Linked DNA regions of Homo sapiens. The protein of the gene in region 1 purifies or fractionates together with the protein of each later gene. This does not show direct contact. Each region holds a gene or a part of one and is shown in the gene's direction. Other genes may lie near its edges.

The links.
Region 2: the proteins of GID4 (region 1) and MKLN1 purify together in Homo sapiens (affinity purification with western blotting; 2 studies listed by BioGRID and IntAct, with this or other methods). This does not show direct contact.

What each region holds. Positions count from the first base shown.
Region 1 is NC_000017.11:18,038,071-18,054,120, forward strand, and holds the start of GID4 (glucose-induced degradation protein 4 homolog), read left to right. Parts: upstream 1-1,337; 5' UTR 1,338-1,394; coding exon 1,395-1,832; intron 1,833-7,076; coding exon 7,077-7,136; intron 7,137-16,050. Other genes in the region: ATPAF2 (ATP synthase mitochondrial F1 complex assembly factor 2), read right to left, coding at 811-943.
Region 2 is NC_000007.14:131,390,546-131,406,595, forward strand, and holds part of MKLN1 (muskelin), read left to right. Parts: intron 1-6,721; coding exon 6,722-6,831; intron 6,832-8,692; exon of another isoform or gene 8,693-8,695; coding exon 8,696-8,888; intron 8,889-16,050. UniProt on the Homo sapiens protein: Component of the CTLH E3 ubiquitin-protein ligase complex that selectively accepts ubiquitin from UBE2H and mediates ubiquitination and subsequent proteasomal degradation of the transcription factor HBP1.

The sequences.
Region 1 (16,050 bases):
GAACAGTGAACATCATTCAGGTGGGCCTTTTTCTTCTTTAATTGAGCTTCTCTACCAATACATACAGGTGGGTCTTAAAGACAACCGTGCCTCCTGCCTCCAGCACAATAAAACTAATTGAATGGTGGGAGGGTGTTACTGCTCTTCATTCACTGAAATGAGTCATTCTCACTCTTACCCTGACACCACTCACCATCAGCAATGAAAGAGCCACTACTTCTAAGCTTCATCAGAGTTGGAGGTGGAGGTGACTCCACAGTCAGAGGTGGAGGTGTCAATTTCTATTTAGGAGAGAAGGCTGCAGATGGCAGAGGTTGTGGTAGGAGGGAAAGTCAGGAAACCTGCAGCAGAAGTGCCCGGGATGGAGGAATGAAGGCCCAGGTTCTAGGTCCCTTCTGGGCAGGTCTTGTGTTGGGCAGTGGAGACACGGAAAACAGTCAGACAGACACCACAAACCTCTGAGAGAGTCTGCCTGTAACCCAGACGAAGTCCTGATTCAGAGCCCAAACTTCCCCTTTTGAAAACAAAGATGACACCTGCTTTCCTTATTAAAGGGAGGGCAGCCATAAGCTTTGAGAAAACCTGCACAGGCCAAATATCAATTACTGTATCGTGCGTGACTCGCTGTTCCCTCTCGGGTCGTCTGCCCTTGTCTGGGCTTCACTTTCTCATCTGTAAAAAGACCTGACTGGCCTGCATAACCTCATGAGCCTGAACCCTGCCTCAGTTACTTCGCTTTGCACAGCCGAAGCCCGAAGCCCACCTTACCCCAGCTCGGCCCCAACCCAAAAGAACATGTCATGGTCTTACCTGTCGGCGGGGCGTAAGCCCGGGCTGGAGACGGGATGGTTGGCCCCGGACTCATAGAAGCGCTGGGGCCACCCGCCGGCCGATTCAGGAGACGGCGTCCCCCGTCCCGCAGCCGGAGGCAGCTCCTCCACATCGCGCCCGAGGGTCTGGGAAGATGCGAGACGCGAAACCTGGAGCAGGAAACACAGAGCGATGGGATCCCCAAAGCCGCACGGTCGGGCTGTACGGAAACCTCTCAACGCCTCCTCAGAGCCCTCAACCTCCCTTGGACGCCGCCATCTTCCGCATGACACCTACGGCGCGCCGTCGCCGCCGCGCGCCTCCTGCGCACACCCCCAGTCAATCAGCATCACAAACGCACCTCGCCCCGCCCCCTCCACGCCGCGCCTCGGCGAGGAGACTACAAGTCCCAGCGGGCCGCTCGCGCACCGCGCCACGTGTTTTCTCCTCCCGCCAATGGGCGGAAGCGCCGCCTGAGCCTGCTCCCGCCCCCCAGGCTCGCCTGAGCCAATCGGAAGGGGCGGGGTGTGTGTGTGTCTGTGTGTGTTTGTGTGTTGTGTGTCTGTGAGTGTCTGTGTGTGTGTATGTGTGCGCGAGGGCAAGTCGGGAGGGGGACCCAGCTCAGGACTGGGAGGCCCTGCTCGCAGGTCCCTGGGTCCCGGTGGCGGCCGGAGCGCTTGCTCCGCAGGCAGCGGGCGGGTGGTCGCCCCTCCCGCCCCCACCCCGCGCGTGCGCGCCCCGGCCTCTCCCTCCCCGCCACCCTCCTCGGCTCCCGCGCGGCGGCGGCGGTTCCTCTCCCACTCCCCCCAGCCCTGGCTCCGGGGGACCCCGCGATGCCGGTCCGCACCGAGTGTCCCCCGCCGGCCGGTGCCTCCGCTGCCTCCGCGGCCTCACTCATCCCGCCGCCGCCCATCAACACCCAGCAGCCCGGCGTGGCCACCAGCCTGCTCTACAGCGGCTCCAAGTTCCGCGGCCACCAGAAGAGCAAGGGGAACTCGTACGACGTAGAGGTGGTGCTGCAGGTGAGCGCCGGGCCGGGCCGGGGCCCGAGGGCCTCCTCGCGGCGCTCACGGGCCGTGCCCGCTTCGGCTCCTCGACCCCGCAGCCGCGGAACAGGCCCTCGCCGCCGGGGCCTCCTGCACCCGGCGCTTCCCACCCGGGACCTTCCCAGCCTGTGTCTCACACTCTCCGAGCCCCAGCCCTGACCTGCCCCTTCGGACCCAGAGCCCGTCGTGACCGGCTCCTGGCGGACCCCGAACACTCCCAGACTTGAAGCCCGTGACCGGCCCGTCTGGGATCCGGAAGCCCCTCATGACTCGGAGAAGGCCTGGGTCCTTCCTCCCCATGACCTGTCGTCCCTAGATCAGGGACTGCCACCAGCCCTTTTCAGACCCTGAAGAACTCTCCATTGGTTTCACCAGACTTGGGACCCTCCCCATGTCTGGGCCCACGTCAGATTCTCTCAGACCTGAGACATGTCCTCCTGCCCCTTCCTCAGTTCCAGGAATCCGCAGACCTTGGGGTCTTCCTCCTCCTGAGATCTCCTTAGGAGGGCTTCATCAGACCCCCAGACGGGGGAGCACCTAACCCGCAACTGATTGGTCAGGCCCTGGCCTCACCTCAAGACCAGGCACTCACTCCCTGAGTGCTGCTCACAGTCTGTTGGGATGTTGCCTCCTGGGTCCCCTGTTCCACTCACTGCTTCTGTCTCTTCATGGTCCAGGCACCCAGCTCCTTCCAGCTTCTCCACCCCCAGGCCTCCTGCCCCTGCTCTGGGACCATTTGCAGTCTTTTCCCAGTCTTCCTGGCCTCTATCCAGACTTCCCCACCCCATACCTTCGTCTTGCTCGATCCTGGTTCCAGGGGACCCTCTTTCCTGTTCTTAACTTTTCTCTACACAGGCACAGGGCTTCCTCTTAGTCTCTGGTACCCATGTACTGGGAAATCTAACTCACCCAATTTTAGTTCATGTCCAGTCGCCTCCCCCCATTTGACCTGGATTCCTGAATACCTGCTGCCAGTCCCTGATCAGCTTCGGAAGTACAGCTTCACTTGTCTGGGCCTTTCCCACACCTCACTCCTCTCAGGCTTGACACTTTTTGCCAGCTGAAATGGAGTGGCAGTGGTGAATACTCTTTTATCTCCCCTCCCCACAAAACTCTTCCTCCTCTATACCTACCCCTGCCTGACTAAGGACCCCTTTCCCCTTCCCTTTGCCCTTTTTTTCCTTAGTCTGACACCTCATCTGCCAGGCTGTTCCCAGAAGCCCCTCCAAACACCTGTCCCTCTGAAAGGCACTGTGTGCTGCCCCACTGCCTCCCCCCCGCCCCACCCCCCGGGGTGTGAGGGTGGAATGTACAGTATATTTATTCCTCAAGCTCTCCTTTTGGTCATTTAAAACAAATCTTAGTTTCACTTCTGAAGAGTAGGTCTCCCATCCAAAAGACAATGAGGGTGCCTTTTCTTTCTGCTAACTGCGGAGCACTCATCACTCTTTTATTCTCATACTGCTTTGTGGGAATAAATCATTTTCTCTGCTTACTTGAAACAGCATCGTCATGTTAATCATATCTTTGGGCTGTAAAGTTCTATCATGAGCCACGATAGTTATTATAATGGAAATACGATTGTGGCTGAAATATTTTTGTCTTCATAACTGTATGCCTAATGTAGTGATCCTCTTCTTAAAATGTGAGAGTCGAGTATGAAGGTACAGGGGTTTTTCGGTTTGTTTTGCACCTAGTCATAGAATTCTGGAGGTGAGATCCCTGGGTGGGTCACGTTTGGGATGATCTTGGATTTGTCCCTGTTGTTCAGTTTGATGGTTTCTGATGTAGTAGGGGACAATTGGCAAGATAGCCAGGCGTCAAAGGGGAGTCTGCTTTGGCTACTGCAGCAACTGCTGCTCCCTTCTGTCATTAGGGTATCACTTCTGAGCTCCTTTCAGAAGGAGAATCATGAACCAGGGGAAGCAGTGGTTGAGTTGGGGCAGGGCTGATAGGTCTCAGGCAGCCCAGAGCAGAAACCTGGTGGATGGCTGGGAGCCACTTGAGTAAGATGTCTGATGGTGGGGGTGGTGGTCATGCCAATGAATGCTGCCCTACATCTGGATTGGTGAGCTGCTTGGTCATCATCACGACTAGTCAGTGGCATGTGAATTGCCCCATCATCTGGTTTTTCAGCCAGGACTAGTTTGTCAGACACAGCCTTCTTAGACTTAAAATACTTCTGCCTTTTATAACTCAGCTTCTTTTTGTTTGTTTTGTTTTGTTTTCTTTCTTTCTTTTTGTATCTTTATTTAGATAGAATTCACTTATTTAAGGTGTACAATTCAATAGTTTTTAGTATATTCACAGTTGTTTAACCACCACCACAACCTAATTTTAGAATATTTTCATCACCCCAAAAGGAAACCTTGTATGTAACCCTTAGCCATAACCCCCACTCCAATCCTAGGCAACTGCTCATCTATTTTTGTTGTTGTTTGTCTATTCTGGACATTTCATATAATCACATAGTATTTGTCCTTTTGAGATTGGCTTCCTTCACTTAGCATAATGTCCTCAAGGTTCATCCATATGGTAATATGTATCAGCACTTATATTCCTTTTTATTTTGCATTGTTCATTGTAACAATTGTCCATTGAATGGATATACAACATTTTGTTTATACAGTGATCAGTTGATGGACATTTGGGTTGTTTCCACTTCTGGCTACTATGAATAATACTGCTATGAACATTTATGTACAAGTTTTTATGTGGATGTATATTTCACTTTGGTAGATAACTACCTGGGAGTGCAATTGCTGGGTCACATGGTAACTGGGTTTTAACATTTTGAGAAACTGGCCCTGCATTGTTTTACATTTCCACCAGCAGTGGGTGAGGGTTCCAGTTTCTCCACATCCCCGCCAACACTCACTGTTCATCTTTTTTGTTGTAGCCATCCTAGTGTTTTTGAAGTGGTCTCTCACTGTAGTCTTGATTTGAATTTCTATAATGACTGTGCTGTTGTGCATCTTTTCTTGTGTTTTTGTTGTTGTTGTTGTTTTGGAGTACTTTCTTTTCTGTGATTCTAGTGTAAAGAGTTCCTCAAACCTTTGTGAGTTTCTGACTGGGTCTCCTCTCCACCCCGCACTTACTGTGACTCCTCTTTCCTCCTCTGCCATCTAAGAAGCCAGCAGTAGAAGGGAGCCCTGGTCGCTGTGAAAGGAATATTTAAAAGAACAGCCGTTGGACACAGCTGTGCTGTGACACCTTCTTGCTAAACACGTGCCCTGTTATCTTTCTTGAGATGCTCGCCTGCCGTTTGGTAAAAGCTGTATGCGTTGTGGTGTATTTGAGTTCACCAACCATTATCAAGATCAATTTGGGCAGAGTAGAGAGACGCTTGGTTGAATGGAGGCCAAGCTGAAATTCTGATTCTTGAGCATGTGATAATCCATGCAAAATGTTAGCCAATTTACATTTCAATTTTTAATCTTATTAGCAAGTATCCTTGCCACCTGATACACTTTTCAGCAGCTGTGAAACTCCAAACTATATTGAATTCAATGAGAATTGCATACATGAAATTTAAAGACTCAGGTTAGAATTATGTGTCCTTTAATAAAAGTTCTTTGCTGAACCATGTTAGCGTGGATTAGCTGTTTTAGATAATGTCCAGTGCCAAGGTCAGCAGATGAGGATATTTAAAATGCTTTGGCAGTTTTCACAGGGAATACCTTTGTCACCAGCACCAAACTGTGAAGGCACTTTGGCTTCATTGAAGTTCATTTGCTTTGGTGCTGACATCATCTGGTTGACTAAGTTCATTACAGTTTTTAAGCATGGCTTAGTATTTGATTTATGGTATAATTGGAAGTAATCAGGTTCACAAATCTGATAAATGCCACAAAACTATTCTAATTTCTTGAAATAAGACCTCACTTAACATTAAAATCTCAGTGTACCACAGGTACCCTTGTACTTGGTTTGCTTTAATTCAAGGATTTACCTTGTAAGTGAATCCAATTGTCATGAAATCTGAAACTCCCTATTCAGAATGAGTCTGTATAGATTTGGGTGAAATCTCACATCAGGAGGATTTTTGAGGTGACGTGGCTTCAGGTTGGTTAATTCAGAGGCCTACGATGGGCCCAGTTTTTTCCATCTTTCTAACTACCATCCTCAGCATTTCCTGGCCTGTTTCTCCCCTGTGGTCTAGATGTCTCCCCCAGGACTGGACACTCCATGCGGATACTGTCACCACTAGGGGACAAAAAAGCCATTTCTTCCTCATGCGCCTCTTCAAAAGCCAGGGATTTTTCACAGATGCACTCAGGAGACTTACACATCTGATGAGCCAGAAATGGGTCACTCACCCCTAAATACATGACTTGCAAGGGGATAGGGACACCTGTGTGCCTTAGATCCATCAGGTTGACCAAGTCTTACGTGGTAGGTAGGTACCAGAGCAAAAACTGGACCCTGCCAGCGTGAAAAAGGAGGAAATTGTTTGTTGGGTAGGCATCCGGCAGTGTCTCAGCAACCAGTAATTGGTGACTGCTAAACCTCAAAGTCTACTATGCCTGTTATTTCTATTTATTTTAGGCTCCTGACTCTTTTCATTAAGAAACACAGCATCCATATATAAAATGCACAGAGTGAACATTCACAATATAGTCAGACTTTTGGTTGGCATTTTGGTTCATAACTGAAGTTTATACCACATAAATCTTTATAAGATGCCATTTCTGAACAGTCTGCCCATTTCATAAAGAGATAATGCAGGATGATGTTTAGTGTAAAAACTAGAAGAGGAGCAGACCTCCTAGACCAATGATTGAGCAATACAGAAATAGAAAAAGGCTTGAAAGACATTAGAAAGAAAGTCAAGCCTGAGGTTAGGGATGACACCACGTGTACAGGCAGAGACAGAGGCCCTGTGCCCAGCAATGCTCAAGGTCTCTAGATGACCGGGAGACGTGTGTTGAAGATAGTACAGAAAATGAATTTGAGTGGGCACCCCATTTCAGAAAGACACTTCAGTCTCATGATATTCAGCTGAAGAAAGTTGAGAGGGTCTTGGGATCAGTTTGCTTTGGCAGAACAGGCATGTGTGTGGGGAGAACTTATCAAGATTCCAGAGACTGGGTGAGCCTTGGACTGCCCTGGGTGTTCACTGACCACCAGTCTGGCCTCACAGGATTTGCAGAGTACCCTCCTGCATGTCCCCTAGTAAGTTTATCTATTTGTGACAGGCTGTGTATCCTTTCTTTTCAGCACGTGGACACGGGGAACTCTTACCTTTGTGGGTACTTGAAGATTAAAGGCCTTACTGAGGTAAGCACTTGCTCACACAAACCAGCACTAGAAAGTCTGTGGTGTGCTCCACAGGCTCATTGGGGTTCAGGGCAGGCGGTCTCAACTCCTTGAGGCCTAATTAAAGCAGACTACTCCTGAGCATTGCTACTGTATAGGGAACATAAAACAGGCAGTTTCAGTGTGTCCTGTTGAGAAGTGTACAGATTCACAAATGTTTTAAAGAAAAGTTTATAAGTACATCATAATTGTCACAACCAACACTATTGATTTTATTTTTAATCCTTTTTGGGGGAAAAAATAATAAGAATATAGCTGCCACCCTCATCATAAGTTTAACAGTTTCTGAGATAAGCATCAGTCCTATAAAAAATGAGCTTTTAAGTTCTTTAAGCCTCTTAGTTAATTGGAACAATGAAAAGTTACTGACTGGTCGCGGTGGCTCATGCCTGTAATCGCAACACTTTGGGAGCCTGAGGTGTGCAGATCACTTGAGGTAGGGAGACCAGCCTGGCCAACATGGTGAAACCCCATCTCTACTAAACATAAAAAAAAAAAATTAGCCGGGCATGGTGGCACAGACCTGTAGTTCCAGGTACTTGGGAGTCTGAGGCACAGAGAATCACTTGAACCAGAGAGGCAGAGGTTGCAGTGAGCCAAGATCACCATGCACTCCAACCTGGGCAACAGAGCAAGACCCTGTCTCAAAAAAAAAAAAAAAGAAAGAAAAAAAAGGGGAAGTGACCATCTAGTTTCCAGCAGAAGTACCTGCTGTGCAGAGTATTTTATTTTCTTTGAACCAAGTTTTTAAACCTCAGAACTCCTGGGACTTTAGAAAGCAAGGAGGAGCATCCTTTCTTTTCCATTAGCAAGGAAACAGGAAGTGGAAGGAGGTAGCTGGACTGGCCCTCCGAATGCTGGGAATGCCCAGGCTGGACCTAGCTGCAGGGGGCCTCTGGCCTTTGTCAGCTCTCATGGTCTGATGATCCAGCAGTATTTGGACAGAGTGCTGTGCTGGATGGGGCAGTGGAAAGGAGCTGGGGTGGCATTCTTCTTCTGCCCCTTCCTGCATCTGTGACCTTTAACTTCTTTCAGTGTCCTCATCTGCGAAGTTGAGAATTAAAAATTCCTGCTCCAGGCTGGGTGCTGTGGCTCACACCTGTAATCCCAACATTTTGGGAGGTCAAAGCAGGAGGATCACTTGGGGCCAGGAATTCAAGACCAGCCTGGACAGCATAGCAAGACCTTGTCGCTACAAATAATTTTTAATAAATTAGCCAGGCATGGTGTTGTGTGCCTGTAGTCCTAGCTACTCAGAAGACTGAGGCTGGAGTATCGCTTGAGGCTAGGATTTGAAGGCAGCAATGTGCTGTGATCATGCCTGTGAATAGCCACTGCACTCCAGCCTGGGCAACCTAGGAAGATCCTCTCTCTTTAAAAAAAAAAAAAATTGGGGTCGGGCGTGGTGGCTCACACCTGTAATCCCAGCACTTTGGGAGGCTGAGGTGGATGGATCACCTGAGGTCAGGAGTTCAAGACCAGCCTGGTCAACATGGTGAAACCCCATCTTTACTAAAAATATAAAAATTAGCTGGGCATGTTGGCAGGCACCTGTAATTCCAGCTACTCAGGAGGCTGAGGCAGGAGGATCGCTTGAACCCGGGAGGCGGAGGTTGCAGTGAGCCAAGATTGCACCATTGCGCTCCAGCCTGAGCAACAAGAGCGAAACTTTGTCTCAAAAAAAAAAAAAAAAAAAAAAATCCCTGCTCTGTCTAAGACAATCAGTGGACTTGTTCTGGGGGTAAGGAAAGAATGTTAGAGAAAATGACAGACTCAAATATGGTACTAATATGTGATTCTCTTGTAAAGTCCTGATGAGCCTCAGTCTTAAGACAAGTTTCTGGCTCCTGGTTCCTATCTGCTTTTCTATTAGAAGCTTAACTGATTAAGGATCTCCTATGAAGTTTGTTGTTGAGACCAAAGGTATTTCTTCTTTAACTCGAGAATTGTATCAAATCAAGTAGGAGTAGAAGTGATAGCAAAATACAGGATTCCAGCCTTTGGGTTTGTGGTAGGAGAAAAGATACTAAAACAGAATATGCTCAACTCTCAGGTAGCCAAATACATTAGTTAACTGGGTGCAGAACATAAACACTGAATTTCATAAGGAAACCAGCAAGTGTGTAAGGCATTGGAATGTTAACGCTGACTCCAAAACCAGTCATTTGGGTGATAACAAGCTGCACAGAAATGGTAAGTAGCATTCGAAATCTTGAAGAAGTATACAGAAATGCTAATGGCATTGAGCTCTCCATCGGGAACAAGTAGCCCTTCCTTTAGGAAGCCCCCGTGAGTCGAGAGCAGCAGTCAGGCTCCTTTGAGGAGGGGGCACTGACAATGGCCCTTCAATGGGGGCTAACCCAAGGGGAGCCCTAGGCTCTTAACAGAACCTCTGCAGATGGCGTGGCCTCGATGAGCACATACCCTCCCCAGAGTTGCCTGTTCCTGGTCCAGCAATAAATAGACCACGTTATGCTGCTGCAGGGGTGTTGCGTTAAAGCAAGTCCTGCTCAGGCCTTAGATGTAGAAGAATTCTTTTTAAATAATGTTTTTTAGTAGCTTTATTGAGATAATTCACATACCATACATTTCACCCATTTGAAGTATACAGTTCATTGGTTTTTAGTGTATTCACAAAGTTGTGCAACTATGTGATAACTTTTTTTTTTTTTTGAGATGGAGTCTCGCTCAGTCACCCAGGCTGGAGTGCAGTGGTGCAATCTCGGCTCACTGCAAGCTCCGCCTCCTGGGTTCACGCCATTCTCCTGCCTCAGCCTCCCGAGTAGCTGGGACTACAGGTGCCCGCCACCACACCCGGCTAATTTTTTTGTATTTTTAGTAGAGATGGGGTTTCACCGTGTTAGCCAGGATGGTCTCGATCTCCTGACCTCATGATCCGCCTGTCTCGGCCTCCCATAGCGCTGGGATTACATGTGTGAGCCACCACGCCTGGCCGATAACTTTTTTTTTTTGAGACAGAGTCTCAGTCACCCAGGCTGGAGTGCAGTGGTGTGATCTCACCTTACCACAACCTCTGCCTCCCAAGTTCAAGCGATTCTCCTGCCTCAGCCTCCCGAGTAGCTGGGATTACAGGCGTGCGCCACCCTGCCCAACTAACTTTTATTTTTAGTAGAGACAGGGTTTCGCCATGTTGGCCAGACTGGTCTCGAACTCCTGACCTCAAATGTCCACCCTCCTTGGCCTCCCAAAGTGTTGGGATTACAGGCGTGAGCCAACGCACCCAGCCTGATAACTTTTAAAATTATAAGTCTAGTATATGGTTGCCGTAGATAATAGTAAAATGCAGAAAACTACAATGAATCTTTGAATAAATTTTGTACCTGTATTTGGGTTTTTTTTCTTTTCCATTTATGTTTGTTAAAATATCAATTTTTTATTTTTATTTTTTGTTTTTGAGGAAGAGTCTTGCTCTGTCACCCGGGCTGGAGTGCAGTTGTGTGATCTCAGCTCACTGCAACTTCCACCTCCCAGGTTCAAGCAATTCCCATGCCTCAGCCTCCCGAGTAGCTGGAATTACAGGCATGTGCCACCACACCTGGCTAATTTTTATATTTTTAGTAGAAATGGGGTTTTACCATGTTGGCCAGGCTGGTCTTGAACTCCTGACCTCAGATGAACCACCCACCTTGGCCTCCCAAAGTGCTGGGACTACAAGCATGAGCCACCGTGCCTGGCAAAAATATCAAATTTTTAATTTATTTTAATTAAACTATAATTTGGGTTTTAGTCATAGTAGTTGCCTTCCTCACGTATACAGTATGGAAAAGTATCTACTAAAATGGAGATAGGCCAGGCACAGTGGCTCATGCCTGTAATCCCAGCACTTTGGGAGGCTGAGGCAGCTGGATCGCCTGAGGTCAGGAGTTTGAGACCAGCTTGGACAACATGGTGAAACCCCATCTCTACTAAAAATACAAAAATTAGCTGGACATGGTGGCGGGCACCTGTAATCCCAGCTACTCAGGAGGCTGAGGCAAGAGAATCGCTTGAACCCAGGAGGCAGAGTTTGTGGTGAGTTCAGATCATGCCACTGGACTCCAACCTCGGCAACAGAGTGAGACTTCGTGTCAAAAAAAAAAAAAAAAGGAGATAAGTGTCAAAAAAAAAAAAAAGGAGCTAAATGGCCTCTTAGCTACCTCACATTCACAAACAAGCACAGCTTTTTTGTTTGTTTGTTTTAATTTTTATTTTAGGCTTGGGTGTACATGCGCAGGTTTGATCTATAGATAAACTTATGTCACGGTTTACCTATGTAACTGTTGTGGAGATTATTTTGTCACCCAGGTATTAAGCCTAGTACTGAATAGTTATTTCTTCTGCTCCTCTCCCTTCTCCTACCCTCTACCCTCAAGTAGGCCCCATTGTCTGTTCTTCCCTTCTTTTTTTTTTTGAGATGAAGTCTCGCTCTGTTGCCCAGGCTTGAGTGCAGTGGTGCAATATCTGCTCACTGCAACCTCTGCCTCCCAGGTTCAAGCAGTTCTCCTGCTCAGCTTCCCAGGTAGCATGTACCACCACACCAGGCTAAATTTTTTTTTGTACTTTTGGTAGAGATGGGGTTTCACCATGTTGGCTAGGCTGGTCTTGAACTCTTGACCTCAGGTGATTTGCCTGCCTCAGCCTCCCAAAGTGCTGGGATTACAGGCTTGAGCCTATTGTTTCCTTCTTTGAGCCCATGAGTTCTCATCATTTAGCTCCTACTTATAAGGGCAGTATTTGGTTTTCTGTTCCTGCATTAGTTTGCTAAGGATAACGGCCTCTAGCTCTACCCGTGTTCACGCAAAAGACATGATCTCATTTCTTTTTATGGCTTCATAGTATTCCTTGGTGTATATATACCACGTTTTCTTTATCCAATCTGTCATTGATGGGCATTTAGGTTGACCCACTTTTTACTATTGTGAATAGTGCTACAGTGAACATTTGCATGCATGTATCTTTATAGTAGAATGATTTATACTCCTCTGGGTGTATACCCAATAATGGGATTGCTGGGTCGAATGATAGTTCTGTTTTTAACTCTTTGAGGAATTGCCACATTGCAAAACGGAGCTTTAAAGTTTGTTTTCATGCCTTCTGGAAGTGAAATTCTAGAAATGTAAAGAATAAATATGAAATAACATTCTTTTTGCACTTTTGAGCCATCCGTCAGTCAAGAGAGGCGACCTTTCCGGGGAACCCAGCAGCTTTCAGGGGTTACCTGGGAGCCCAGCCTTTGGGGGCCATGGGCAGGCCCCCCACTTACTCATTACTTGGGTTTGGAAGGGTTGGAAGCTCCAGCTGAAGTTGTGCTAGACTTGTGCTTAACTAGGGAGACAGGTCACACCTACCAAAACTCACAAAAACAAAAGTGCCAGTTTTTGTCAGAGAATGAGATTCCTGTATGTTCCAGAAGTTCCTGTTGACTTATTGGCCAATTGAATGTTAATCCTCCAGAAGACAGGTCTACATGGAAAGTCGTGGTACCTATCACCACACAGTTTTGGGTGAGCCTGGAATCAGTGGGAGGATTAGTTGGGGGACTTAAATGTCTGACAACAGCCAGACCCACCAAGGGATGCCCACTCCTGCTTTTGCTGCCTCTGTTATTCATTTCTCGATATCCTTTCTTCTGACATGGTTTTTCGTCCGCTCTATAAATTACCCCTCATTGGGCTGTAATAAAGTGCTTGAATTTCCTGTTCCTGCTCTGAGAATATTTTATCTTTTCAGTGACTTCTGTACACACTGAATCTCATTTATTAGGTATTTATTTTATTTAATTCTCAAAGTTTGAGGGTACCCTGTAGTTACCCTGATATACTGCCTAAAGTATGTTTACAAAGAAGTCAATGCAGAATTATTCATTAAGAAAACTAGTGATTTAAACCATAAGTGTTTTAATCATATTAGGACCTCCTCCCCACCCCTCCCTTTTTTAAAAATAGAGACCGGGTCTTACTATGTTGCCCAAGCTGATCTTGATCTCCTAGGCTCAAGTGATCCTCCTGTCTTGGCCCCCTAGAGTGCTGGCATTACAGGTGTGAGCCACCAGGCTTGGCCTTGTATTAAAACCTCTTTATCATTTCATCCTATCCCTTTCAAGGAAGTTCAGAAAAAAGATTAAAGCTTGAAACTCGGAAAAATAATATAAACAGTTTGTAGTTGGCTGATGCCTGTAATCCCAGCACTTTGGGAGGCCGAGGCAGGTGGATCACGAGGTTAGGAGTTCAAGACCAGCCTGGCCAAGATGGTGAAACCCGTCTCTACTGAAAATACAAAAATTAGCCACACGTGGTGGTGGATACCTGTAATCCCAGCTACTCGGGAGGCTGAGACAGAGAATTGCTTGAACCCGGGAGGCGGAGGTTGCAGTGAGCCAAGGTTGTACCACTGCACACCAGCCTGGGCGACAGAGCGAGACTCCATCTCAAAAAAAAAAAAAATAGCTTCTAGTTTAAAATCTCAAATGCAGGTGCTGATTTATTGAGAACTTTTTTCCTTAGTAGTCTTTCCTAGAACAGATTATAATTAAAAGTTAGTTTATACCGGCTGGGTGCGGTGGCTCACGCCTGTAATCCCAGCACTTTGGGAGGCCGAGGCGGGTGGATCATGAGGTCAGGAGATCAAGACCGTCCTGGCTAACACCATGAAACCCTGTCTCTACTAAAAATACAAAAAATTAGACAGGCGTGGTGGCATGCATCTGTAATCCCAGCTACTTGGGAGGCTGAGGCAGGAGAATCACCTGAACCCGGGAGGCAGAGGTTGCAGTGAGCCGAGATCGTGCCACTGCATTCCGGTCTGGGCGACAGAGCAAGACTCTGTCCCTCCCCCCAAAAAAAAAAAAAAAAGTTAGCTTATACCTTAAAAATTAGGTTTACATTTAGGAAAATTTCTCCTCTCTCATTTTTTCAGTCTATGTATTTAAATATTTATGTGAAGAATCCAGCAACAGTGTTAGGATAGGGGGGTTGTGGGTTTGGGGCAGTATTAGATTTATCATATTTTAAGTTCACTGTTAAGGAAACAGATCCCCTCCATGGTGTCATCCTAAAGCAGGCCTCCTGAGCCACCTGCAGCGGTGGTGACGTTCTGTTTCCTGGGAGCCTCTGCACCAGTGGCTTTTACTGTGGCAGCCTCTCTCAGGAAGGTCCTACACTACATGCAGGCCAGGTTGGTAGATGTGGCAAAGCCATCAGAATGAGGTTTTTGATGCAGAATAAGAGGGGCTTACATCTGATCTGAAGGAAAAACGTGGGCCTTCTGCAGTCCTTGATGTTAGGACTGTAATCTGTGGTTTTCCAGGCCAGTGACTCTCATAACCATGCTCCTGGCAGACACCAGGGGCTTGGCAAGGTAGCCTGAGAGGTGGGTGCTTGGTTGGTTTCTACAAATGCAGAGAAATGTAGACTTTTTACGGTGTTAACTTTTTGTCTTATTAATCTTTTTTAAAATCATTGGTGCCTACTTATTAACACATGAACAAAGAGCAATTAACAAAGCACCCAAGCCAGCACATGGCTTCTTGCTTACGTTTTCCACGGTGTGGTTTTTACATTCAGACATGATTTACATATGTTTTTCCTCATATAAATTGTTTTTAGTTCATATGTTTTTCCTCATATAAGTTGTTCTTAGTTCATGTGACAGAATTAAACGTATCCCTATGTATCAAGGTATTCTAAGACTACCTTCAGGGACCATTTGTATAGTTCATTACTAGAAGTTTCTCTGAACATGTAGAACACTGAAAAAAGTATTTACTTTTTTTTTTTTTTTTTTTTTTTGAGACAGAGTTTCACTCTTATTGCCCAGGCTGGAGTGCAATGGCGTGATCTCGGCTTACTGCAAACTCCGCCTCCAGGTTCAAGCAATCTCCTGCCTCAGCCTCCCGAGTAGGTGGGATTACAGGCATGCGCCACCACGCCCGGCTAATTTTGTATTTTTAGTAGAGATGAGGTTTCTCCATGTTGGTCAGGTTGGTCTTGAACTCCTGACCTCAGGTGATCCTCCCACCTCGGCCTCCCAAAGTGCTGGGATTACAGGCGTGAGCCACCATGCCTGGCCAAAATAAAAGGTATTTTAGGCTGGGTGCGGTGGCTCACACCTGTAATCCTCGCACTTTGGGAGGCCAAGGCGGGTGGATCACCTGAGGTCAGGAGTTCGAGACCAGCCTGGCCAACATGGCGAAACCCCGTCTCTACTAAAAATACAAACATTAGGTGGGCGTGGTGGCAGCCAACTGTAATCCCAACTACTCGGGAGGCTGAGGTAGGAGAATCACATAAACCCAGGGTGTGGGAGGAGGTTGCAGTGAACCGAAATTGTGCCATTGCACTCCAGCCTGGGCGACAGAGCAAGACTCTGTCTCAGGAAAAATAAAAAAGTATTCTACCCCAGAATCCACCCTGGAACCTTGGAGAATTGGTGTAAAAGGGACAAATGACTGAGCCAGTTGGAGAACCAGTGGCTTGAGGGAGCCTTAGTGGTAGACACAGTGATTTTGGAGCCTCTTTGGGTCTAACCTTGGAAAGTAAAATCTACCAAGTTATGATCTGCTTTGTATGCTAGAATATTAAAAATTTATTTGTGGAAACATCCAAATTATTTTCTAAGAGACTAGCATGTAACAATTGAAGTCAAAGAAGGGCTGTCTGCTGCTGGCAAAATCCAGGAAACCCTTCATTCTCTGGGTGATTTAGATTCAGGTCCATTGCCACAGCCTGTTGGCAAACTGGCTGCGATCTAACTCTGGTTTGGATTGTCAGGTAGCAGTGTCTAGGTACTGGAAAGAAGTTAAAGCAAAGTTTATTTTTCCTTTGTACAAAGGTTAAAAACTCTCACTCAACATCTTATTTTGATATTTGGGTTTTTA
Region 2 (16,050 bases), on another chromosome or scaffold:
ACTAAGGTATAATTGACAAATAATAATTATATATATTTATGGTTTACAATGTGATGTTTTGACATATGAATACATTGTGAAATTATTAAATCAAGCTAATTAACATATCCCTCACCTCACATACTTAACATTTTTTTATGGTGAGAACATTTAAGATCTACTCTCTGAGCAATTTTCAGTTATTACTATAGTCACCATGCTGTACAGTAGATCTCCAGAACTTATTCTTCCTGCTTGACTGAAACTTTTTACCCTTTCACCAACAGCCACGCATTTCTCTCATCACCTTTTTAATTATAGGGCATAATGATGTCTTTTACTTGATCTAGGGTTAGTTTAATGGTATTTAGGCAAAATGTTAATTGGAGCTTTCCAAATAATAGTAGACACTTATTAGCCCATTTTCTATTTAGGATATTAATATATAGATAACTTAGTATGTCTTACTTTTCTCTTAAAATATGTTAATACCGGTCAGCAGTGTATTTGCTTCCCAACCCTTTCCCAAGCATTCTCTTAAGAACTTTTTTTTTTAAGTAATATAAGGAAAATATGGAACTAAAAGGCCGTATGTTAGGTCATATTTTTAGTTTGTCATATTTTCTTCAAAAGTTATTCCAGTAAAGGACTTGAATGATGTATAGCTCTCTTTTGATGTTAGTTTAGCACAGACGTTTATTTCATTTAGGTAAATCGTTAGAATTTGACTTAAAAAAAGCCTTTGAGTATTTTACATCTGTGTTCTATAGTGACATGTTTGAAAGATCTTGCTTTATTTAAAAAACAAGTTAATGCTTAAACAGCAAAATTTCTCAATTTAGTCAGCCTTCAATTATTCACAGTAATGGAGGGGAACAGAAGCAAGGCTAACACAATGGCAGATAATCTCCAAATTGTTTATTGACATGTAACTATAATAATTTTCATTTATAATGAATGTAGCTTATTAAGCAAATTGAAGTAAGTTTGGTCATAAATTGTTAACAAGGAAAATAGCCCACATTTCTACTGTGTGGCAGGGGTTAACTTTTAAGATCTGTTGTGGATAATTCAGAGTACCAGTAAAGCTGAACTGATGTCATTGGACTGCCTTCCTTCAGGAAAGTTTTACTTTCCTTTCTTAAGTTACCTTTTGTATAAAATGAGGATGTTAATGCTTTTTCTGTCTAATGGTAGGATAGGTAGCTATATTGGATATTTTCTTGAATTCTGTTCCAGTTTGTGGATCTGTGGTTTTAATTTAAGAGTACATTTATGGAAGAAATGATTGCATTTTGGATATCTCTTTTGCACATTTTCGTACTTATATTTTTAAAGTTTGTGTTTACATGCCTTCTTACATGTAGTATTCTAGGGACTTTGATGGGACTTAGTGTAGAAGGACAGTTGGCCTTAGAAAGAAGCTTGGTTTTAGATAAGACCTAGAGGTGAAAGGAAAATTTAGTAACAGAGGTGAGTTATTAATTGGGAGACTGGATTCCAGAGGGCAAGTTAAAGTTTGGGAAGGGAAAGCTCAGCAGGAGATTAGATCAGAGGAAAGTAAACATAAAATGGGTTGAGGGTATTGGTTACAGATGGCTCAAAGGGTTTACATTCTGATTTATAGCCACAATAACAGCTGTATGAGGAAATCAGGGGTAGGTGAGGGCAAAAAGAGGTACAGGGTCTTGGAAGGATTCAGGGGGAGTCTTGGTTTTTGGTAAATGGAGAGATGTGGATTTTTGTAAAGGAGTCAGCTGCAGCCTGGATGATTGTGGAGACTTCAGAGAGCGGCTTTAACTCTGGCTGGATGCAGCATGAAATCTGAGCATGAAGTCTGGGTATTAGTTCCAGGAAGCCCTTTAGGAGAGCATGTGGAAAAGTGACATTTTAGAAGTATACTATTAAGAGGAAAATTAATATAATAATAATAGATAATAACAGCTAACATTTATTGAACACTTAGTATGTGCCAGTTACTGTGCTAAGTATACTTATGTCATTAAATCTGTAGTAGAATAGTAGATGCACTCTTTCAGAATAGTTAATCTTGAATTTTTAGGATCTCTCAGAACCTCTTTTTTTTTTTTTTTTTGGGAGGTGGAGTTTCACTCTTGTTGCCTAGGCTGGAGTGCAATGGCACAATCTCGGCTCACCACAACTTCCTGCCTCCTGGGTTCAAGCGATTCTCCTGCCTCAGCCTCCTAAGTAGCCGTGATTACAGGCATGCGCCACCATGCCCGGCTAATTTTGTATTTTTAGTAGAGACGGGGTTTCTCCATGTTGGTCAGACTGGTCTTGAACTCCCGACCTGAGGCGATCCACCCGCCTTGGCCTCCCAAAGTGCTGGGATTACAGGCGTGAGCCACTGCGCCTGGCCTAATTTTTTTTTTTTTTTTAAGAGGCAGAGTCTTGCTCTGTTGCTCAGGTGGCACAATTAGAGCTCAGTGCAACCTCCAGTTCCTGGGCTCAAGCCATGTTCCGGCCTCAGCCTCCCTAGTAGCACACCACCACACCTGGCTAATTTTAAAAACAATTTTTTTGTAGAAACTGAGTCTTGCTGTCTTGCCCAGGCTGGCCATTTTATGAAAAAAGGTGACACAGGGATGTTGATTATATTCATGTCTGATTGTCCAATGGGGAAAACTGATGACTGAATCCTAGAATACAAACTGCTAGCCTTGGGATATGTATTAGGAGTTTCTAATTCTTTTATTTGATGAGGGAGGCATCTTTTATCAGGGAACAAAGAACACGTGCCTGGAGCTTTAATTCACTTTTAGATTTCTTAGTGTTCTAATATGCATTATTAGTATTGTTAATGCTACCAAAAATCACTGGCGTTTGAAGTGAGTGGACATCATTCTGCTCATTTTTTACATACCCTTTTAGTCTGTTGAAAATTAATTATATTGTTTATTCATCTGTAATATATATGCCCATTGGCAAGATAACTTCATGATTTACCTCCTTCCTCTAAAGGTATTCTTTAAAGGTATTAAAAATTATAACTAATTTTATTCTAGAAATATTTCTATTGGACCATTGGGTAACAGATTAAATTTCACTGCAAGTGTTTTAAAAGGTTTTTGTTTTGTTTTGTTTTGTTTTGTTTTTTAAGAGACAGGGTCTTTCTCGGTTACCTAGGCTAGAATTTAGTAGTGTGGTCATAGCTCACTGTAACACTGAACTCCTGGGCTCAAGTGATCCTTCATCTGGCCTCCCAAGTAGCCAGGACTACAGGCACATACTATCATGCCCAGCTGATTTTTAATTTTTTTTTGTAGAGATAGGGTCTCACTATATTTCCAGGCTGGTCTTGAACTCCTGGGCTCAAATGATCCTCTTGCTTCTGCCTCCCAAAGTGTTGGGATTACAGACATGAGCCACTGCACCAGGACCAATAAATGAATTCTTAATGAGACTTGGACCTGGAAATCTCTAATATTTTATGTCTGGTGACATATATAGACTATATTCTTGGTGCTTTTAGTTTAGAATCATTATTTTATTCTGACTCTTATACTACTAGATGGTTATTGCTATGTGATTTAGTAGATAAACTTTTAAATGACACTGCTACATAAAGAAACACTAAAACAATAAAGATAATTTAATATTTGTTGTTAAAAAAAAACTTTTTGAAATGTGTGTTGTTTACATACATAAACAGAAAGGCATATTAAATATCCCAGCATTCCTTCATACATCCTTATGGCTGGTTGCTACTGCCTGTGTTTTTATTCACACAGCTTCCTTTATATCAGTGGTCCCCAACCTTTTTGACACCAGCGACCAGTTTTGTGGAAGACAGTTTTTCTGTGGACCCAGAAGTTGGGGCAGGGTATGGTGGAGAGATGGTTTTGGGATGAAACTTTTCCATCTCAGATCATCAAGCATTAGATTCTCATAAGGAGTGCACAACTTAGATCCCTTGTATTTGCAGTTCATGATAGAGTTTGCAGTCCTTTGAGAATCTAATGCCAACGCTGATCTGACAGGAGGCAGAGCCCAGGCAGTAATGCTCCCTTAACACACTGCGCACCTCCTGCCATGCGTCTGGGTTCCTAACAGGCCAGGGACCTGTACAGGTTTGGGCCTGGGGGTTTGGGACCCCTGTTTTAGATGACAAAAATATATAAAAGTATCATACCCCATACATTTTCCTTATTCAGTCGGATATTGGAAATCATTACGCCTGGTATCAGCTATTCTGGATATTCTATTTTGATGCTTCATCAAAACTCTACAAATGTTAGTTTCTTAAAGATAGTTGCATTATTGATTCTGAAACTGCATCAGTGAATCTGTTGTTACATTAAAATTCACTGGTCTATCTTGGACTTTTTACCCAGTGGTCTGTCTTGGACTTTTTACCCAGGTGTGATTTTGTAACATTCATTGGTTATTTAGAAAATATGGTTCACTGAATTACACAGATCTCCCAAATGTTGAAACACTTCATTATGTAATATTTTAAAAATCACATTTATTAATATCACATCTAATCTCATTTAAAAAAATCTAAGTGTTGGGAATCAGTTAAGCTCACAGTGGTGGGTACTTATCTTCCAAAATTCTAATTTTTCTCTTGAAAGCTTGGTTTTTATCCTTGACAGCAAATATCGTTAAGTATTTTCCTTGAAATAACATGTAAATGTTTGGCAAATACCCAAATCTGAATAATCATAGGTTGTCTGTTTTTCTTTCAAGAATAAAATGGCATTCCATGAAAAATAAATTGATTTTTAAACTCACAACTTAAATAATTGTACAGGTCCTTTCCTTGAGATAACCATTGTGGTTTGGTACACAACAAAAATGCTTTATATGCAAATCTCATTTTGTCACACAGGATACTAGACAGATGTGTACTTGATGGGAATTTAATAAAATTAATTTTTCTGTGCCATTGGTAAAAATTATTTTTATTTTATTTTATTTTATTTTATTTTATTTTATTTTATTTTATTTTACTGCCAGTGTATGGTGGTGAGGCATACAGTGCACCTTGTACTTACTGAGCACTAATAGTACTTTTTGGTGCCATTAGTTTGGTACCAAGGTGCTAGCAGTTTTACACACCATTGCTTTTGTACCATTAGTGCAATGTTGCTATTATTAAAAGGCTAGAAAAGTGTTTATTATGTTATTTTGAAAAATAGTTGTTTTGAAAAATAACTAGTGTTGTTATTAAAAAAAAAAGTAGTTTTGACTACGTGGGACCTCTGGAAAGACCATTGGGATTTTGATTGACATGATGTTAAATTTATAATTAATTGGAGAGAGCTACACATTTACAATATTGAGTTTTCCTATATAGGAACATAGTATGTTCTTTCATTTATTCAATTATTCACTAAAATTTTATATTTTCTTATAAATATTGCGTATTTTAAGTTTATTCTGAAGTATTTTCAGCTTTTTGCCATTATAAATAGGACTTTTTTGAGGTATATTTTCTAATTGGTTATTGTAGGTATAGGAAAAGTTGATTTTTGTGTGTTTACCTTGTTTACAAATAAAAAGTTTTTCAATTGAATATATATATATATTTTTTTCCACTGAGACACAGTCTTATTCTGTCGCCCAGGCTGGAGTACAGTGGTGTCATGGCAGCTCACTGCAACCTCCACCTCCTGGGTTCAAGTGATTCTCTTGCCACAGCCTCCCAAGTAGCTGGGATTATAGGCGCACGCCACCATGACTGGCTATTTTTTCTATTTTTAGTGGAGACAGAGTTTCACTGTGTTTGCCAGGCTGGTTTTGAATTCCTGGCCTCAAGTGATCCTCTTGCCACGGCCTCCCAAAGTGCTGGGATTACAGGCTTGAGCTACTGCTCCTGGCTCTCTTGAATTTTTTTAGGTAGACAGGTCATCTTTAAATTACAATTCGTTTTTCTTAATTTGTTTGTTTGTTTCCTTATTGCACTGGTTGAGACCTCTAATTAGTGACAAATAGTAGAGATATTGGACATCTTTGTCTTGTTCTGACTTGAGTGGGAATATTTAGTATTTTCCCAGTAGGTTTAATTTTTAAGGTTTTTGATGCTTTTTAAAAAAATCTAAGGAAATTTTTTATTGCCTTATATTGCTTATATATTGAGGGTTTAAAAATAATAATGTATTTAAGTCATCAAATGTGTTTTTTCTTTTATTTTGTTAACGTGGTAGATTATATTAATATAGCTCCTATTATTTATTGAACCATCATCTTTCCATTCCTGGAATGAGATCTGTTTGGTTACAATGAAAATCTGATAGAATTTTTTGCAACTTTTCTCCTTTTAATTTGTATTTAAATATGTATTCATAGCTGTGATTGGCCTTAAGTCTTTTTTCTTCTGATTTGGATTTCAGGGTTGTGCCACTGATAAATAATTTCAGTCTCTTTCAGTGTTCTGATGTAGACTAAATTCTAAAGTAATTTTTTGCTGCTTGTACATTTGATAAAATTTACCTGTTAAATCATCTAATTCTGGTGGCATTTATTTGGGGGTAGACATGTGCACATTTTTAATTTATCTTACAGTGTTTTTATTAACTAAGGAAATCTTATGGTGGCATGGGTCATCTGTTTCGTTTTACTGTTGTAGCCTTAGCACCATGCTAGTCATATAAAAGATGCCCAGAAAATTCGTTGAATGAATCCTTATAAGGTTGAATAGTGCTTTTACTTTGCTAAAGTTTTATTTGAACTGTGTTAATATTTTTCTTCTTCTTTTTGTTTTTTCTCCTTAAAGTTCCACTCTTGTCCTGGGGACCCAGCTTTAACTTTAGCATCTGGTATGTTGAACTTAGTGGCATTGATGATCCTGATATAGTACAACCTTGTCTCAACTGGTATAGCAAGGTAGGACTGTGTTTTAAATCCTGACTTTAATGCCTATAAAAGGAGAAATATGTCAATCTCTTATCTTCATTGAGAATAATTTAAAATATTCAAAATAATAATAACAACAGTTAGCTAACATTTTATTAAGCACTTCCAGTCTGCCAGCTTTTAAGGAATCCTGATAACTCACTTAGTCATTATCACTCTATGAGACAGGTGCACTTATTATCCCCATTAGTTTATAGATGAAGAAATGAAGAACAGAGAGATTAAATAGTTTGCCTAGGATCACACAATTGTAAAGTGTTTGAGCCAGTATATGAATTCAGGCAGTTTGGCTCCACAGTCTGCTTTTATGTTATTATACCCATTTGACTCTGAATTTTGTTTTTTCACTTGTATTCATATAAATACTTAAAACATAGTTTTTAGTGGGATAGTTTTGCAGCCTAATGGAAAATTTAAGATGTGGATGTGATTTAGACTCCTAAAGTAGTCAACAGGGTTAAAAAATACTGCTGTTTAATATAACTGTAATATATATTGTTACATGGTAGTTATGATAAGTCTTTTTTAGAGGCCAAGAGTAAGTTAATTATAGTTAACTAATTATAATTAAGTTGTTAATTAATTATAGTTAATTATAACGTGTAAGGATTAGGTGTTTAATGACCTTTTATTAGTTAAGTCAGCTATCAACTGATTTGTTTCAAATCTTATACATCTTCCTAAACACATTATTTTCTTGCCTTATTAAAGGGTCATGCCTATAAGTAAATCATTGTTGTTTGATTATCATGCAGGCTTCCATGTCATCTGTTTGTTTGAATAGTGGTATACTTAGGAAGTTTGAGGTAGTCCCAGAACATATTCCTGAAGTTGAGATTTTTTTAAAAAAATCCTTTTTATAAGATTGTATTTTTGGCATCTATCCTATTAGGGGAAAATTTTAATAAATTAAGTGCCTGCTTTTTGGATTCCAGTTAATTGAGATGTCTACTTTATAGCTGCTTAATAGATGAGGTAGTTCAGGCTTAGAAAACAATTAAATTGGGCCGGGCGCAGTGGCTCACACCTGTAATCCCAGCACTTTGGGAGACCAAAGTGGGCAGATTGCCTGAGGTCAGGAGTTCAAGACCATCCTGACCAACATGGTGAAACCCCGACTCTACTAAAAATACAAAAATTAGCTGGGCGTGGTAGCGCGTGCCTGTAAGCTCAGCTACTTAGGAGGCTGAGGCAGAATTGCTTGAACCTGGGAGGCGGAGGTTGCAGTGAGCTGAGATTATGCCGCTACAGTCCAGCCTGGGAGACAGAGCAAGACCCTGTCTCAAAAAAAGAAAGAAAAAAAAAAAGATTAAATGTCTCTTTTTGATGATTTTTGAGTCATAAAATGTGTTTGTAAATTTGAAATATCTGTATACTTGATACTTGTCATTCAAGTAATAGTTTATTTTTAAAAACCAAAAATAGCATAATATAATTTATGTGGATTATTTAATGTTCTTTTGTGCTCTCAGTACCTGCATTGTAATGGGATTAATAGATGCTATGGAGTTATAATTTTTACAGTATTAAGTGGAGTTTAAGAAATAGATGTTCTCCCTTTCTTCAAAGTTGAGGCTCTGGAATTAGGTTTGGTTTAATAACTTTTGGCTACATATTTTGTGACCTTGAGCAAGTTATTGGAACAGGCCAAGCTTTAGTTTTGCTAGTTAAAAGAGCCAAATAATGATACCTAATGAATCAGGTTAGTAAACTGCTTGGCACATAGTGTTAATAAATGCTCAGTGTAGATTAGTTATTTTTACTGTTGTTATTGTTTCCTACAGTATCATCTAACCAAATCTCTTCTTTCCATACTTACTCTGTGTTCTAGTAGTACCGTGAACAGGAAGCTATTCGCCTTTGCCTAAAACACTTCAGACAACACAACTATACAGAAGCTTTTGAGTCACTGCAAAAGAAAACCAAGATTGCACTGGAACATCCCATGTTAACAGATATTCATGACAAGCTGGTGTTGAAGGGTGATTTTGATGCTTGCGAAGAGTTGATTGAAAAGGCTGTAAATGGTATGAAACTTAGATTGGTTATTAGGGTAAATTCAAGTACATACGGGAAACTTTTTCTCAAAAATAATATAGGCTTATGCCAGTTATTACTGTAATTTTTTTTCTTGGTTTTTTACTCGGTTAAAGATTGTTATCTCTTTGGATTAGGGACTTCTTTCATGTAAAATAGATCCATGATGTAATGAGACTTAAAAAATTGAAATGTACTTGAACTCACATATAAATTTAAGTTGTCATCTTGGGAAACCATGCACTTACAAATGATTAACTAGCATTAAACTGTATCAGAAATAATATTTTGATATTGGTAGCCAATATTCATTAACAGTGTAGTTTTGAGGAGAAGGGGGGCTAGATAATAAAAAATGTTATTAGTAAACAATTATATATAAGGAACAAGGAGATTTGTATTGAAAACAACTTCCTTGTGGTGTGAATGCTATATAATTGCTGATTTTCTTGTGTGACCTGTAGTCTGGCTTTGAAAGAAATGTGAATAGTTGAACATCTGTATTATCTCCCAGGGTATTGGCTTTGGAGGGTAACACTCATTTGGATTTTTAAGGTCTGATGTGTTTTGTTATTTAAACTAAAAAGGGACTCTGTTGTTGCTTATAGTATGACTTTTTTTTTTAATCTTCCTCAGTAACTTTCATAGTGACAAACAACAGAATAGTTGCACAATATAAAACTTGTGGAATTGAATTTGGTGCATCCTTTATAGGAAGAAATAAGAAATAATAGATTATTCAGTGGTTTGCTCTCATTTTAATTTTATCACTGTTATTATCGTCTATTATTAGGTATTCATATTTATCAGATATTGGGTAGCTAAAAAAAAACCAGACTTGTACTGCCTTGAGTTTATAAATTTAAAGTTAACTTAAAATGAATTGCTTTGAGCTCCACTTTTTGAAATATGACAAATCTGCTTCTAAGCCTTGTGCATTGTTATTGCTTACTTGATTGATGATGATACTTGCAAATAAATGATAGGTATGTTTGAAATTGAGTATATTTTGGAGTATAAACAAACAAATAACTAATCTCTTAACAGACTTTAAAATGCTACCAATAAAAAAAAAATATATATATATATATATATATGCCATTTCTAGGAGTGAATTCTGTGGGTTTTTTTTAACCTCATAAGATGAGGGAGGCATAGGTAATTTTAGGGCTTTTTTGTTTGTTTCAGATATTTATCAGTAAGGCATTTGATACCATTTTGTGAAGGGAAAGCAAAACAACAGCCACAGGCAACTCTACAGTTAATAAGCTAAAAACAGTTATATTTTAAAGGTCTCTTTAGTGACGTACTCAGTTGGTTAAGATTAGCTGATAAAAATCTTGTGCAGTTTTGATATCTACAGAGACTTAACTTATCCTTTGGCTCTAGAAAGGAACCAAGTTTAGAGAAATTAGTAGTTGCTCAATTCTTGAAACTTACAGCCACATCATAGTTTTTGTACTGTGAATACTATGGGCTTTCTAAACTGGCCTGGAACACTGTTAGTTAATAAACATTCCTTTCAGGGTTGTTCTCTTTGCTTCTGATCTCATTGATGATGATTTGTTGGACAAATAAGGAAGTAAACAGTGCAGAGTTTTTTGGCTTCTGCTCTATTAAAAACATAGCAGAGAAGGACAAGAAGTTCCTGCCTGCTAAATAGGAAGATCTAGGGAATCAAAAGAGTCTCTGTCAAGCTTCTTGTAATGGAGGATACAAAAGCTACTTTTAGTATTTTTAGTATATTACTTAGTATGATCTTTAAGTATTTTCTGTATTTTAAGAAAGTGTAAGGCTCTATTTATTTCTGTAATAGGCTTTTTGTTTGTCTAGAAACATCACTGTATTTACATTTCATTTTATTAGAGGTGATTTTGGAACCAATAATTGCTACTACCTCTTTGCCCATGCAGGATCCAGTGATGATAGGCAAAAGTAATCACCTAGGGACAGGAATGTTTTACTCAGACATGTAGAGATTGTACTGAAATCCACCCTTTGCTGAGCTTATCTTATTTGCTATAGAAAGAAAAATTTTCTTTTGTGAGATAAGGGAAGGATAAAGTTTAATAAGGTAGTCATAAAGTTTCAACCTGAAATCTCTACCTTTCTCCCTTTGTCTTTCCCTGCTTCTTTCTTTTTTCTGTTTTCCTGGTTTAAAAAATAATCTCTCCACTCTGGTTTTTTGGATTGTGCAGTAGTTGTTAATTATAGGCATATCTTGGAGATATTGCAGGTTTGGTTCCAGACCACTGCAGTGAAGTGAATGACACAATAAAGCAAGTCACAAATTTTATTTCCTTTGCATGTGCATATAAAAGTTATCTTTCCACTTTACTGTAGCCTCTTAAGGTACAGTGGCATTATTTCTTTAAAAAAAATGCATATACCTTAACTTAAAAAATGCTTTATTGCTTAAAAAATGCTAATGATCATCTGAGCCTTCAGTGAGTTATACTCTTTTTGCTAGTGAAGGGTCTTGCCTCAGTATTGATGGCTGCTGGCTGATAAGGATGGTGATTGCTGAAAGTTGGGGTGGCTGTGACAGTTTCTTAAAATAAGACAAAAATGAAATTTGCTGCATCAATGAGTTCTTCCTTTCACAAAAGATTTATCTGTGGTGTGCAATGCTGTCTGATTGCATTTGACCCACAATAGAACTTCTTTCAAAATTGGAGTCAATCCTCTCAAACCCTGCTGCTGCTTTATCAGCTAAGTTTATGTAATATTCTAAATCCTTTGTTGTCATTTCAACAATGTTCACAGCATCTTCATCAGGAGCAGTTTCCATCTCAAGAAACCACTTTATTTGCTCATTCATAAGAAGCAATTTCTCATCCATTCAAGTTTTATCATGAGAGTGTAGCAGTTCAGTCACATCTTCAGGCTCTACTTCTAATTCTAGTTCTCTTGCTATTTCTACCACATCTGCAGTTAATTTCTTCTTCTGAAGCCTTTAACACTTTCCACATCATCCATGAGCATTGGAATCAACTTCTTCCAAACTCTTGTTTATGTTGATATTTTGATCTCTTCCCATGAATCATGAATGTTCTTAATGGCATCTAGAATGGTGAATCCTTTCCAGAAGGTTTTCAATTTACTTTGCCCAGATCCATCAGAGGAATCACTGTCTGTGGCAACTATAGCCTTACAAGATGTGTTTCTTAAATAATAAGATTTTCTTGAAAGTCTAAATGACTCCTTGATTCATAGGCTACAAAATGGATATGTGTTAGTAGGCATGAAAACATTAATATTCCTGTGTTTCTCCATCAAGCTCTTGGGTGACAGGTGCATTGTCAGTGAGCAGTAATATTTTGAAAGAAATCTTTTTTTCTTTTTCTGAGCAGTAGGTCTCAACAGTGGGCATAAAATATTCAGTAAACCATTCTGTACACAGATGTGCTGTCATCTAGGCTTTGTTACTCCATTTGTAGAGCACAGGCAGTAGATTCAGCTTAATTCTTAAGGGCCCTAGGATTTTTCAGAATAGTAAATGAGCATTGACTTCCGCTTAAAGTCACTAGCTGCATTAAACCCTTGCAAGACAGTCACACTATCCTTTAAAGCTTTGAAGCCAGGCATTGACTTCACTCTAGCTATGAAAGTCCTAGATGGCACCTTCTTCCAATAGAAGTCTATTGGAATGTTTTGTCTACATTGAAAATCTGTTTAGTATAGTTACCTTCATCAGTGATCTTAGCAAGATCTTCTAGATATTAATAACTTGCTGCATCTTCTATAATACATCAACACTTGTGGCTTTACTTTGCACTTTTATGTTACAGAGGTGGCTTCTTTCTTTAAACTTCATGAACCAACCTCTGCTAGCTTCCAACTTTTCTTTTGCAGTTTTCTGACTTCTCTCAGCTTTCACACACTTGAAGAGAGTTAAGGCCATGCTTTAGATTAGGTTTTGGCTTAAGGGAGTGTTATGACTGGTTTAATCTATCCAGACCGCTCTAACTTTCTCCATATTAACAATAAGTCTGTTTTGCTTTCTTATCAGTCATGGGTTCACTTGTAATTTCCTTCAAGAACTTTTCCTTCTCATTTACAACTTGGTCAACTTTAGTGCAAGAGGTCAACTTTCAGCCTATCTTGGCCTTTGACATGCCTTCCTCCCTAAGTTTAATTATTTCTAGTTTTTTTATTTAAAGTGAGAGGTTTGTGTTGAACACTTAAAGGCCGTGGTAAAGATATTAAATGGCCTAATTTCAGTATTGTTGCATCTCAGGGAATAGGGAGGCCCAAAGAGAGGGAGAGAAATGGGGGAACTGCTGGTTTATGGAGAAGTCAGAACACACACAACATGGTGCCTCAAAACAATTACATTATTAACATCAAAGATCACTGATCATAGGTCACTGTAACAGATATGACAGTAATGAAAAAGGTTGAAACATTACGAGAATTACTGAAATGAGAGAGAGACACAAGTGAAGAAATTCTGTTGGAAAAACGGCATCCATAGACTTCCTTCAATTTGTAAAAAACACAGTATCTGTGAAGCGTGGTCAAGCAAAGCATTATAAAGGCATATGTATGTTGAATTATCTTAATTGATTTTCTGTTTTTAATGCAATTTTGTATTCCTTTTTACAAACCCTACTTGATAATGGTGTCTTACTCTTTTCAGGTATTGTATTTGATCTGCCACCTTTTTATGAAGTATTTTTGCATATATTTGTGTATGTAAGATATTGGTCTGCAGTTTTCTTTTAATGTGCATGTCTTGTTTTGTTATCTTTTGGTATGTTTGGGTACTTCCAGTCTTATAGAATGGGGCAGGAATCTAAAAGTGTTTGTGTAGAATGAGTAGTAGCTTGGTAGAATTTACTAGTGAAGGCAACTGGACCTGAAGTTACCTTTGTGTGGAGGTTTTTGTGTTCTTTTGGCAGGGTCTCTCTTTGTCACCCAGACTGGAGTACAGTGGCATGATCAGTTAACTTTAGCCTTGAACTCCTGGGCTCAGGCTATCCTCCTGCCTCCTGAGTAGCCTGGACTATTGGTGCATGGTATCATGCCTGGCTAATTTTTAAAAATGTGGAGATGGGGTCTCGCCATGTTACCCAGACTGGTCTTTAACTCCTTGCTCAAATGATCCCAAAGCACTGGAATTTCGGGTGTGAGCTATTTGTTTGTTTTCTCTTTTTCTTTTCTTTTCTTTTTTTTTGAGACAGGGTCTCTCTCTGTTGCCCAGGCTGGAGTGCAGTGGCACAGTCACGGCTCACTACAGCCTTGACCTCCCTGGGCTCAAGTGATCCTCTTACCAAGCCTCCCAGGTAGCAGGGACTACAGGTGTGCGCCACTACACCCGGTTAATTTTTTGTAGAGATGGGGTTTTGCTGTATTGCCCAGGCTGGTCTCAAACTCCTGGGCTCAAGTGATCCACCTGCCTTGGCCTCCCAAAGTGCTAGAATTACAGTTGTGAGCCGCCACCCTCAGCCGAATTACTTCTTTATTTTATACTTGGTTAAAACAAACAAACAAACAAACAAACACTTTCCAGTGTCTGAAGCTGTCTGTGCTTGAAATTTGGTGGGTGGGAGTGTTTTTTACCTATCAGTTTAATTTCTTTAAACATCATAGGACTAATCAGAGTTGTTAATTGTTTGGTTCAGGTTTATTAAATGATATTTTTCTAGGAATTGTCTATAATTGTCTATAATCAAAAATTTCAAATTTATGGGTATTAAGGTATACCTAATATCTTACTGTTTGTTTAGTGTTTGCAGGATTTCTTGAGATGCCCCTTTTTTGTTACTTATCTTGAATATATATATATTTTTCCATCAGCACATGTTTATCAAGTGCACTAGTCTCTTGAGAGAACCAATTTTTGGTTTGTTCATCTTTTCTGCAGGATTTCTTGAGATGCCCCTTTTTTGTTACTTATCTTGAATATATATATATTTTTCCATCAGCACATGTTTATCAAGTGCACTAGTCTCTTGAGAGAACCAATTTTTGGTTTGTTCATCTTTTCTGTTATTTCCTGTGTCCTTGACTTATGCTCTGTTTACTGTTGTCTTCCTTCTCTTTTTGAGATTAATTTGCTGTCTTTTTATAACAACTTTTTAAGCCAGATGCTTAGCTCATTAGTTTTCAGACTTTGAAAATTTCCCTTATATACATTTAAATATATAAAATTTCCTCCTCTTGTTCTTTAGTTGTGCTATGAAGTATTTTTATTTTTGTTCAGTTTAGTATTTTCATTATGAAATGAAATGGCTCTTTGGAAGAACTGTGGTTTTTAATTTACAAATTTGTGGCGATTTACTACTTGTTTTCTTTGTTAGTGATTTCTGGCATAATTGCATAGGGGCCAGAGTGCATATCCTGTATGTTTCCAGTCCTTTGAAATTTAATGAGACTTGCTATATAACCCAGCTTATTCAATTTTTATAAACATATCATATATATTTGAACAGAATGTGAATTCTTTAGTTGTTGGAGCAGTGTTGTATATTTGTTCAGTTGGTCAGAGTTGCTAATCATATTGCACAAATCTTTATCAATAAGAATTTTCTGTCTGATTCTCATTACTGAGAAAGATGTTAACACTTTCCACTATGATCATCGAATTATATGTTTCCTATAGTTGGTCCAATTTTACTTTATACATTTTGATGCCATGTTTTTAATTGAAAACAAATTTTAAATTATTTTGAATTAAATCTTTTATTATGAAGTGCCTTTTTATCTCTAGAAATATTTTTGCTTTAAGGTAAATTGTATTAAGATCTGTTTTCATTTCTTATTTGTATGGCATATCTTTTCCATCTTTTATTTTCAACCTTTATCCCTCTTAAGAGAAATATCTCCTATAAATTTTATTTAAATAAAGAAAATTTTATTTTATTAATAAATCATTTGACTTATGATTAGTTTAGAAATTGCAAGTATGCATGATTACCTTAACAAAATTGATCAGTGCCTTTTCTCTCTTCCCATGTGAGGATTTAGTAGACTTTCAGCTTCATATTCTCACCTTCTAATTCATTATTCTATTGTTGTCAATTGCTCTATTGTTGTCATTTATTTTGATACCATGTTCAAAGACCCTATAAAATATTTGTCTTATACAGCAATTGTTCATTAATTTTACCCAAATATTTACTGGGTTTTTTTTCTCTTCATTATTGT